Linked DNA regions of Homo sapiens: region 1 is linked to region 2. The links come from fine-mapping of genetic effects on gene expression. A gene starts in region 2. The other region holds a variant in brackets. All regions are shown on one strand. Distances are from middle to middle. Region 1 overlaps OPRD1 (opioid receptor delta 1). Region 2 holds the start of EPB41 (erythrocyte membrane protein band 4.1).

Evidence for each region. PIP is the estimated chance that this variant, and not a neighbour inherited with it, causes the effect. A credible set is the group of variants that fine-mapping cannot tell apart.
Region 1: its variant is the best candidate, but not a certain one, in a credible set for the expression of EPB41 in whole blood (TOPMed, PIP 0.58).

Annotation. Positions count from the first base shown.
Region 1 is chr1:28,854,766-28,860,140 of GRCh38, reverse strand. OPRD1 (opioid receptor delta 1) reads right to left here. Exons shown (of 3, transcript NM_000911.4): 2 at 838-1,187. Among named protein-coding and RNA genes, the nearest start is that of OPRD1, 45 kb to the right of the region's middle. RefSeq lists an enhancer at 4,691-5,192. The variant C/T (reference allele first, on the strand shown) is at 2,838.
Region 2 is chr1:28,911,736-28,917,110 of GRCh38, reverse strand. EPB41 (erythrocyte membrane protein band 4.1) reads right to left here and starts at 2,542. Exons shown (of 21, transcript NM_001376013.1): 1 at 2,343-2,542. RefSeq lists an enhancer at 1,738-1,897 and a silencer at 2,118-2,777.

The DNA of each region.
Region 1 (5,375 bases), 57 kb after region 2:
CACCCGCCTTGGCCTCCCAAAATGCTGGGATTACAGGCATGAGCCACTGCACCCAACCAACATTTAAAGTGGCTGTGCTTTCTCCTCGCTCCCTCTCCATATTCATCTGCCGGCCAGATGCCAGCAGTAGAAGATTCAGAAACCATCAACAGGAGGCTGGGTCCCTGAATGTCTGTGCTCCTCCTACTCACACTGGATTGTGATGGGAGTGAGAGAGAAACCTCTACAGTGTTAAGCCCCTGAGCTTTGGAGAATGTTATTGCAGCTCCCCTGATACAGGCAGTTACTATAATTACCATTTTAGCTCCTATTTGTCATTCCCTGCAGGCTATTCTCTAGGCTTTGCTTTGGTCATCCAGGCCAGTGGTTTTCAAATTAGGATGAAAGGGAGTTTAAAATGGGACCACAGATCTTGCAGCCTCCACTGCTCACTGGTCAGTGACACCCTCACCTCACTGGACATCCAACCATCTCTCTATACATCCACACATCCCTGGCCAGCCACCTACATGTACATAACCAGCCATCCATAATCTCCTTCATAAATTCATACATTCCCTTTGGCCAGCAACCCATATGACCACTGATCAGTCATTCATCTTCACAATAGTCAACCATCCGCATGCCCCCCTGGCCAGCTATTCCCATTCCCATTGGTTGACCTTCTTCTACACTCCCACTGGCCAGCCACCACACCATCATTGATCTTGATCAGAATCCAACCTCTGCTGATGAGCCACCTACACTCACCCTGGTAAGTGCCCTGCAAGCCCACAAAGGCCCATGTACTGCCTCCTGTGGTCAGTGGCCTGTGCCATGGTGCACTCACTCACTCACCCCGGGGACGGGTCACAGCCATGACCATGATGGGCACGCCAACGCCTGAGGCCAGGACCCAGATACAGATGTTGATCAGCTTGGCCTTGGCAGGCGTGCGGAAGTCCAGGGCCTTGACAGGGTGGCAGACAGCGATGTAGCGGTCAACACTCATCATGGTGAGCGTGAAGATGCTGGTGAACATATTGTAGTAGTCGATGGAGAGCACAGCCTTGCAGAGCAGCTCGCCGAAGGGCCACGTCTCCATCAGGTACTTGGCACTCTGGAAAGGCAGCGTGCTGGTGGCCAGCGCATCGGCTAAGGCCAGGTTGAAGATGTAGATGTTGGTGGCCGTCTTCATCTTAGTGTACCTTAGAAAGAAATGCATGTGTAATTAATCCCATTTCACAGATTTCAGTTTCACATGAAACTCAAGGAAGGGAAGTAGCTTTCCTAAGGACATGCAAAAGGTCAGGGGAGGCTAGGCATGGTGCCTCACAACTGTAATCCCAGCACTTTTGGAGGCCAAGGCGGGTGGATCACCTGAGGTCAAGAGTTCAAGACCATCCTGGCTAACAAGACGAAACCCCATCTCTACTAAAAATACAAAAATTAGCTGGGTGTGGTGGTGGGTGCCTGTAATTCCAGCTACTTGGGAGGCTGAGGCAGGAAAATTGCTTGAACCTGGGAGGCAGAGGTTGCAGTGAGCCGAGATTGCGCCATTGCACTTCAGCCTGAGCGATAAAAGCGAAGCTCTGTCTCAAAAAAAAAAAAAAAAAAGGGTTGGGGCAAAGGTGGGACTAGAACCCTGCACTATCTGATTTGGCATCGCTCCTTTCCCCGACAACAGAAGCAAAAGGATTTCTCTGGTTGTGAATAACTTTGGCAGAAGGTGTTTTAAGAAAAATCCTGGCCGGGCGCGGTGGCTCACGCTTGTAATCCCAGCACTTTGGGAGGCCGAGGCGGGCGGATCACGAGGTCAGGAGATCGAGACCATCCTGGCTAACACGGTGAAACCCCCTCTCTACTAAAAATACAAAAAAAATAGCCGGGCGTGATGGTGGGCGCCTGTAGTCCCAGCTACTCGGGAGGCTGAGGCAGGAGAATGGCGTGAACCCGGGAGGCGGAGCTTGCAGTGAGCCGAGATTGCGCCACTGCACTCCCGCCTGGGCCACAGAAGCGAGACTCCGTCTCAAAAAAAAAAAAAAAGAAAAAAAAAGAAAAATCCTAGGCCGGGTGTGGTGGCTCACACCTGTAATCCCGGCACTTTGGGAGGCCGAGGTGGGCGGATCACGAGGTCCAGAGATTGAGACCATCCTGACCAACCAACATGGTGAAACCCTGTCTCTACAAAAAATACAAAAATTAGCTGGGCGTAGTGGTGCACGCCTGTTGTCCCAGCTACTCGAGAGGCTGAGGCAAGAGAACTGCTTGAACCCGGGAGGCAGAGGTTGCAGTGAGCCGAGATAGTGCCATTGCACTCCAGCCTGGGCGACAGACCGAGACTCCGTCTCAAAAACAAAAAAGAAAAATCCTAAGCCAGGTGCAGTGGCTCATGCCTGTAATCCCAGCACTTTGGGGGGCCAAGGCAGGGCAGGTGGATTGCTTGAGCCTAGTTCAAAACCACCCTGGGCGACACAGTGAAACCCCATATCTACAAATAACAATAATAATAATAATAATACAAAAATTAGCCAGGCATGGTGGTGAGTGCCTATAGTCCCATCACTCAGGAGACTGAGGTGGGAGGGTCGCTTGAGCCCAGGAGGCAGAGGTTGCAGCAAGCCAAGATCGTACCACTGTACTCCGGAGTGGTTGACAGAGCAAGACACTGTCTCAAAAATAAATAAGTAAATAAAAGAAAAGAAAAAGAAAAATACTTATCTTCTGAAAGGTACTAAGCAATATGTTTAAAAATAAAACTGGGCTCCAGCAGAAAGCAAATCTGGGTTCTAATCCTGCCTCTACTACTTATTATATTAGCTGAGTGACTCTGAGTTAGAAACTTGAACTCTCTAAGG[C/T]TCTGCATCCATAACTGTAAAAAGAGGGGTAATGTTTGTAGCAACCTCTTAGGATGGCTGTGAAAATTTAATAAGCTAACACAGCACTTAGCTCCAAGCCTGATGCATGGAGAGCACTCTGGACACAATCGCTGTTCTTTTTCTTCACAGGTGAAGAATGGAGCTGGGGGCTAGACCAGAGTGACTTGATTCTCTAGCTCCTGGCACTGACCTAGCCTTTGGGGAGTATGATTGGTCAACTCTGAGGAAGGGACACTGCCTAGTAGATTGGCTGGGGTCTGAGACCCCCTGGGTGTCCTCGGTGGTAGACCAGAGCCCCCAGTCCTTCCTGCGGCTCCATCCAGGCCTCTTCATCCCCATGCAACTGGACTCACCTCTCTGCAGAAGCCACAGTGCATCCCTCTTCCCATCCACAGTGGTGTGGGGAAGCGGAGCAGGTGACAGGGTCACACATCCAACCCAAGGCATGAGCCCAGGGGTCCAGGCCAGATGTCTATAGCCAAACTCTGCACCCAGCACTCCCAGCATCCCTCCATGCTCTCTGCCCTGCACAGCTATCTACATTACAGTTGGCCCCTTGTTTGGCCAGTTTACAGCCATGGCCCCTTCTGCACCAGGGCCTGGGCAGGGCAACAGGTAGCCTGGGGGAGACTGCATACACTGAGCCAGACCTTCCCAAATGCAGTGTCACCACCACAGCAACACACGGGCACCCCGAGACAGGGCTATATGACGCTGCTCTCATGCCTCTGGAGTGATCTGAGATACCCAGAGGAGGGTTACATGAGTGACTCCTTGAATTCCAGAGCAGGAAGAGAGACACATTGAGGGGAAGTGATTTTATTAAAGCGTGGCCTGAGGTATCGCTTCAGAATTACCGGAAGAGCCTGGAAGAAATGCAGGGTCCTGAACTGCACCTCAGATCTGAGCGATCTTTATCTCTGGAACTGGGGCCTGGGAATCTTCATCTTTAAGAAGCACCTCCTCACCCCAAGTGATTCTTATGAACTCAAAAGTTTGAGAATTACTATGTAGCCTAAAGCCTCCATTTGGGAGAGACAGGGAGATTGAAGCCCAGAGAGGCAGCAGGACTCACCCAAGGTCACACAGCAACAGTGGCGGAGCCAAGGCGAGAACTGAGACCTCCTGACTCCCACGCTCCCTCTTTCCACCACCCCAAGGGTGGCCCCATACTGTATGCCTCCATTCCTTTAGAATCGCTCTGATCCCATGCCCAGCCCTGGACACCTAGGACGAGGCACTCAGTGTTTTTGAATGACGGAATAAACTCGCATCAGCTAAGGCTGTTCCTGCATGAAGTGACTGGTATTTTTGGTTGAAAAGAAATTGACTCACTCATTGTCCTCCAGGGCAGCATCTATCCTACTCCCTCCCAAATAGCTGTCATTTGCTCTGGGGCTGGAGAAGGAAAAAGTTTTGCTCAGATACAGCAGAATTGCAAGTCTCAGGAAGTGTCTTCAGTGGGGTGTGGGATCACAGCTGTGTGGGAGGCGGTCTCAACCCCACAGCTGACTCGTCTAATTTCTCTGCTCTTACGCAGAACAATTAGAGGCTGTTCTTTGCCTGCTATTTTGATTTGTGAAGGATCCTTCCATTCCCAGAGGGGGCTGGGATGCTGGGAAGTGGGTGATGAAGCTGCTGTAGTTGGTCCAAGCGGGCTGAGCGGCCCAGCGCTGATTGCCCGCCAGGTAGGGCCCCGGGCTCCTCTCCTCACGGCCCCCCTCTCTCCCCTCCACCCACAGCCACGCCCCGTCCTTCTGGCCACCGTAGACTCCCTTCTCCAGCCCCAAGACAAATCATGCCACTCCCCTGCTCTCAGTCCCCCAGCGACTTCCCAAAATTCTCTCTGTTCTGCAAGCTGCCCCGACTACCTTTGGGATCTCAGTTCCCAGCATGTTCCCCTCCACCGATGTGCCCCTGCCACACACTGGCCTCTTTGATGTTCCCTGGACACGTCAAGCCCGCTCCCACCTCCCCACTTCGGGGCCTCTGGACTTGCTCTTGCCTCTGCCTGGAACCCCGGTCCCCCCATATTTTGCATGGCTTGCTCCATCACTTAATTCAGGACTCTATTCAAATGTCACCTCCTCAGGGAGGCCCTCCCTGACCACTCTATCTAAAGTACCATCCTCCCCACCAACTCTCTCTAGCTCCTTCAGCGGCTTCATTTTTCATTACAGCACAAACCACTTCCTGACTTACATTCATCTTCTTTTCTGCCCACTTGGGTCTCTCGCCCATGTAAGTTCCCTGAAGCCAGAAGACTTCGTCCATTTTGTTCCCTGCTGTACCCTTGGGCCTACCAGCAGTGCCCGGCAAAAAAGCAGGCTCTCAGCCAGGCGCAGTGGCTCATGCCTGTAATTCCAGCACTTTGGGAGGCTGAGGTGGGTGGATCACGAGGTCAGGAGTTCGAGACCAGCCTGACTAACACGGTGAAACCCCGTCTCTACTAAAATACAAAAATTAGCCGGGCGTAGTGGCATGCTCCTGTAATCCCAGCTACTTAGGAGGCTGAGA
Region 2 (5,375 bases):
ACTTAATAAATGTTGGGAGAGGCCGGGTGAGGTGGCTCACATCTGTAATCCCAGCACTTTGGGAGGCCCAGGGAGGAGGATCTCTTGAGTCCAGGAATTCAAGACCACCCTAGGCAACATAGTGAGACTGTCTCTACAAAAAATAAAAAGACATTAGCCAAGCATGGGGGCACACGCCTATAGTCCCAGCTACTAGGGAGGCTGAGGCAGGAGGATCACTTGAGCCCAGGAGTTTAAGGCTGCAGTGAGCCGTGATCATGCCACTGCACTCCAGCCTGGGTGACAGAATGAGACCCTGTTTAAAAAAAAAAAAAATTGTTGGGAGAATTTTGGTAAAACCTACAGATTAAAAACATTTATTTCTAAGCCTGAATTCAAACATACAAGGAAAAATGTATAGTTTTGTTGGTAGAAGACAGAGGAATCAGAAGGTTGGCATTCTGAACTTATGTTCAACAATGAGTTCACCTTTTTTTGAGACAGTTTTGCTCTGTTGCCCAGGTTGAAGTGCAGTGGTGCAATCTCGGCTCACTGCAACCTCCGCCTCCTAGGTTCAAGCGATTCTCCTGCCTCCACCTACTGAGTAGGTGGGATTACAGGCACATGCCACCACACCCAGCTACTTTTTTGCATTTTTAGTACAGATGGGGTTTCACCATGCTGGCCAGGCTAGTCTCGAACTCCTGACCTCAAGTGATCCACCCGCCTTGGCCTCCCAAAGTGCTGGGATTACAGGCGTGAGCCACCGTGCCCGACATAGTTCACTTTTAATAGTGCCAAAGATATACTGTACTTGTTTCCCCAGGTGTATGAATAATATCTATATTTACCTTAATTATAAGCTTCTTATAGAAAGCACACTGAATTAACTACTTTGATTCTAAGGCAATCTGGTGTTCAGTTATTACATCTATTTTTGAATCTGCCATTTATTGAGTGCTTACTGTACGCCAGATAGCATGTACGCTACATGGATTATATTAATAACACCCCAAACCAAAAATTTTACAACTGGCGAAGAACTGATTACACTTTCAATTTACAGAAAAGGAAAATGAAGAGTACATCAAGTTTCCATAAAAAGTAGGGGTTAGTGCTACATTAACAAAACTGGGACGGGAAGAAACATATACGGGCTATATATCCTGCTTTTGATTAAAGGGATCAAACCAACTAAAATTTTTGCCAGGACTGAGAATACAGAAAACAACAATGAGCAACAGCATTGACTACAGTACATCCTCAAGAGAGTATAAATCCACTATAATAATATCCAAGACACAAGACACAACCATTTCTTGCAATTTTCCCTAAAAACAGAAGGGAAGAAAATAGCAGCTGTGAAATCACCCAGACTACAAAAAAAAAAAAAAAAAAAAGCATCTGAAAAAAAAAAAGGAAAAAGAAAAAACTATCTCCTAATGAACAACTACATGCCAAAAAACAAGTCTCCACAGACTAGTCATTTATGGCAGGGTACAGGGTACAGTTAAAGAAACAACAGGATGACAGTCGCTATCATGTGGCCAGAAACCAGTCCATCAGCAATCTGTTTCACGTGAGATCACTTTTTCTCAAGAGAATGCCTGTTCTTGGGGAGCATGACCTGTTTTGGCAAAACCTCCCCAGGAATAATGGCCTGCTGGTCAATCTCGGAGGGCGAGCCCAGACCCGGCCTCTCCACAGGTACAGCAGCCCAGCGAGCACGGAGGAAGATTTCCAAGCCGACAGATGCGCGAACTGAAAAAGGAGGTCACGACGCTGAGAGAATAGATTTAACCCTCTGCTCGCTGGGAACCCAGAAGACTAAGGGGGAACATGTTTTTCAATGATGCAGGCGTCGGTGGCGGGAAGGCCTGCGAAGTCTTGCCAGGGCTCCCTGCAGTCCTCAGATTCCGCCTGACTTCTGCAGACAGCCCAGCTCCCTCGCCAGGAAGAAATCGCTCCGCGGCTGCACGCAACACCTTCACCGTCTGAAACCTGCGATTCTCCGCATTTGGTTTCCTCCCGAGGCTCCTGCACACCGCACCGTGATTGACGCACCCGAGGGGACCGTCAAAAATACATCTCAAGCCTAACTTTCCAACACTCCCGCGACGCAACCCCTTCCCCTTTCCTCAGCGGCTCTGGCCCGCCCCTCGCTCCTCGGGCCGCGTCCCGGCTGGCGACTCGGCGTGCACACGAGGCTCCTCCGCGGGAGAGCCCGCGCCCCGGCCCGGGGCCTGTCGGGGGTTGCAGACAAAGAGGCTGCAGCGCCGCCGCGGCCGCCAGGACCGTCCCCACGGGGACAGCTCCACGCCCACCGCCCCGGCTCCCGCGCCGCCGCCGCCGCCTCGCCTCACCGGTGGCTCCGGGGCCGGGCTCCTGCGCCCGCCACTGCTGCAGCCCGACGAACAATGGCAGGAGGAGGCGCCGGCGTCCGAGGCTCGGGCCCTCTGCGGCTCGCGGGCCCGCCGGCTGCTGCTGGCTGACTGACTAAACGCACCAGCGGAGGGAGGGAGCGAGCGAGCGACCCTGGCGCGCGCCCTCCCGCCTTCCCTCTGCGAGGCGAGGCCAGCCCGGCCCGCAGCCCGCCCGCCGGCCCGCGCCCCTCCCCCTCAGTTCGCCACAACATTGTAGTAAATTTCTATTGGGCCGCGCCGGAGGGAAGGAGGGGGCCGGGCCCGCGGCCCGTCCGCCCATTGGCTGAGGCCAACTTCTAGCTCCCCTTGTTTCCCCCCTCCCCTAGGCCGGTAAGGAGAGGAGAGGGGAACGAAAAAGAGAGAGGAAAAGGCAAGGGGCTGGCCGCGTGTGCGCACGCGCAAGTCGAACCCGGTCTGGAGCCGGGGTGTTCCGGGATCCCGCAGCACCCACGTGGGGCATGAGGCAGCTAGAGCCCTGGACGGTGAGGCCCTTTCCTCCTTCCAAGTAAGAGGCCGAGATTTGGAAGCCTCAGGGAAGTAACTCGCGTAGAGGTTGTAGCCAGGCTACCCCAACTGACTCCCCCTAAACGCTTAGTGACCTCGGGTAAGTCACTCAGCTTCTCTGTACCTCAGTTTCCCCATCCACTAGTTTGACTGTCTCTAGGCGCCCTTCCAACCCTGACATTCGATGAGACTTTACCTCTCGTGCCAGCTGTGTAAGGCCTGAAATGGAAGCTAAGTGTTGAGACCACGCCAAGATTGAACCTGTCTTCTGCATTTAAGGATCTCCTAATTCCCCCCTGGCAATCTCAACATTATAAAGACCTAGCTTCCGAGGTCTGGTCTCCAGATGAACTGAGGGTTGCTCTGACAATTGCTTAGTGTGTCTTTATTTCCTTCCAGAAGTGTCAGAGACCCCTTGACCCTTCCTACTCCCTGCTAGGCTGGTCTGTGAACAGGCTTCGGACCCACAGTGCAGAAAGAAGGCTTTTGTTTTAAGCATGATACCTAGAAGGTAAGATAGGATCTGGTGTTCTATTTTAGAGATGAGGAAACTGAAGCAGAGAGACTTAAAACTGACAGGATAAGAAGCCAGGCCATCTGACAGCAGAGTCTGTAGATGCCAGCTAGACATTCCTGATATCTAATCACAGCCCCTTCACGATCCCAGCACAGCCTCTGGAAACAGATTGCCTGGGTTCAATTCTTAGTCTCCAGCCTTTTCTAATGGTTTGATTTTCATTTTTCTTTTATTTATTTATTTATTTATTTGAGACGGAGTCTCGCTCTGTCACCAGGCTGGAGTGCGGTGCCGGAATCTCGGCTCACTGCAACCTCTGCCTCCCGGGTTCAAGCGATTCTCCTGCCTCAGCCTCCCGAGTAGCTGGGACTACAGGCGTGTACCACCACGCCCAGCTAATTTTTGTATTTTTAGTAGAGACGGGGTTTCACCGTGTTAGTCTCGATCTCCTGACCTCGTGATCCGCCCTTCTCGGCCTCCCAAAGTGCTGGGATTACAGGCTTGAGCCACCGCGCCCGGCTGTGCCTCATTTTTCAACACCATAAAAGGGGATAATATGTCCAAGTAGCTGGGACTCCCACCTATAGTGGGAGGCTGAGGTGGGAGGATTGCTCAAGCACAGGAGTTCAAGGCCACAGTGAGCTAGGATCATGCCATTCCACTCCAGCTTGGGCAACAGAGCAAGACTCCATCCCTAAAAACAAAAACGAGGGTTGGGGGAGGGAGAAGGATAATAATAGTTCCCACCTCACAGAGTTACTGTAAGAATTAGGCCAGGCATGGTGGCTCATGCCTGTAATCCCAGAACTTTGGGAGGCTGAGGCAGGCGGATCACCTGAGGTCAGGAGTTCGAGACCAGCCTGGCCAAATGGTGAAACCCCATCTCTACTAAAAATACAAAACTTAGCTGGGCCTGGTGGCAGGCACCTGTAATCTCAGTTATTCTCGGAGGTTGAGGCAGGAGAATCACTTGAACCCAGGAGGTGGAGGTTGCAGAGAGCCGAGATCATGCCATTGAACTCCAGGTTGGGTGACAAGAGCAAGACTCCATCTCAAAAAAAAGAAAAAGGAAAACAGAATTAAATGAGTTAAAATATGTAAAGGACTTAGAGCAGTGCCTAGCTCATAGTAAGATCTATGTGTGTTAATTATTATTACTATTCAGAGACTAAAATGTGGACTGAGAGGTGTGGAACTGGCAAATATAATAATATATTTGTTAAGCATGCAATTGTTGTTAGCACTGAGCTGAGCACGTTATGTAAATTGTCCATTTGAAACATCATAAAACCCCTTGAAAACCACCTGACTATACCATCTAAAACACCCTCCACTCAAACACCCTTATCCTGCTTTAATTTGCTTCATAGCACTTACCCTACTTGACTTTCTACTATATATTTATTATTTATTGTGCCTCTCAAATAAATTGCTGTAATCTAGACCCACTAGACTGCAAGCTCAGGAAGGCAGGGACTGTATCTGTATTCATCTCCCAGAACAGTATACGCTCAATAAATATTTGTTGAATGAGTTAATGAACATCCTCATTTTACATATAAGGAAACTGAGTCTTAGTGAGGTCAGGTGACTTGGCCAGGGTCATTCTGTGTATGAGGGGTGAAGCACCTGTTTTTTTTTGAGAAGGGGTTTCGCTCTTTTTGCCCAGGCTGGAGTGCAATGGCACGATCTCGCCTCACCTCACTGCAACCTCTGCCTCCCAGGTTCAAGCGATTCTCCTGCCTCAGCCTCGTGAGTAGCTGGGATTACAGGCATGTGCACCACGCCTGGCTAATTTTGTATTGTTAATAGAGATGGGGTTTCTCCATGTTGGTCAGGCTGGTCTCGAACCCCCAGCCTCAGGTGATCCACCCACCTCAGCATCCCAAAGTGCTGGGATTACAGGCATGAGCCACCATGCCTGGCCACACCTGTTCTTAAATACTCTGGTC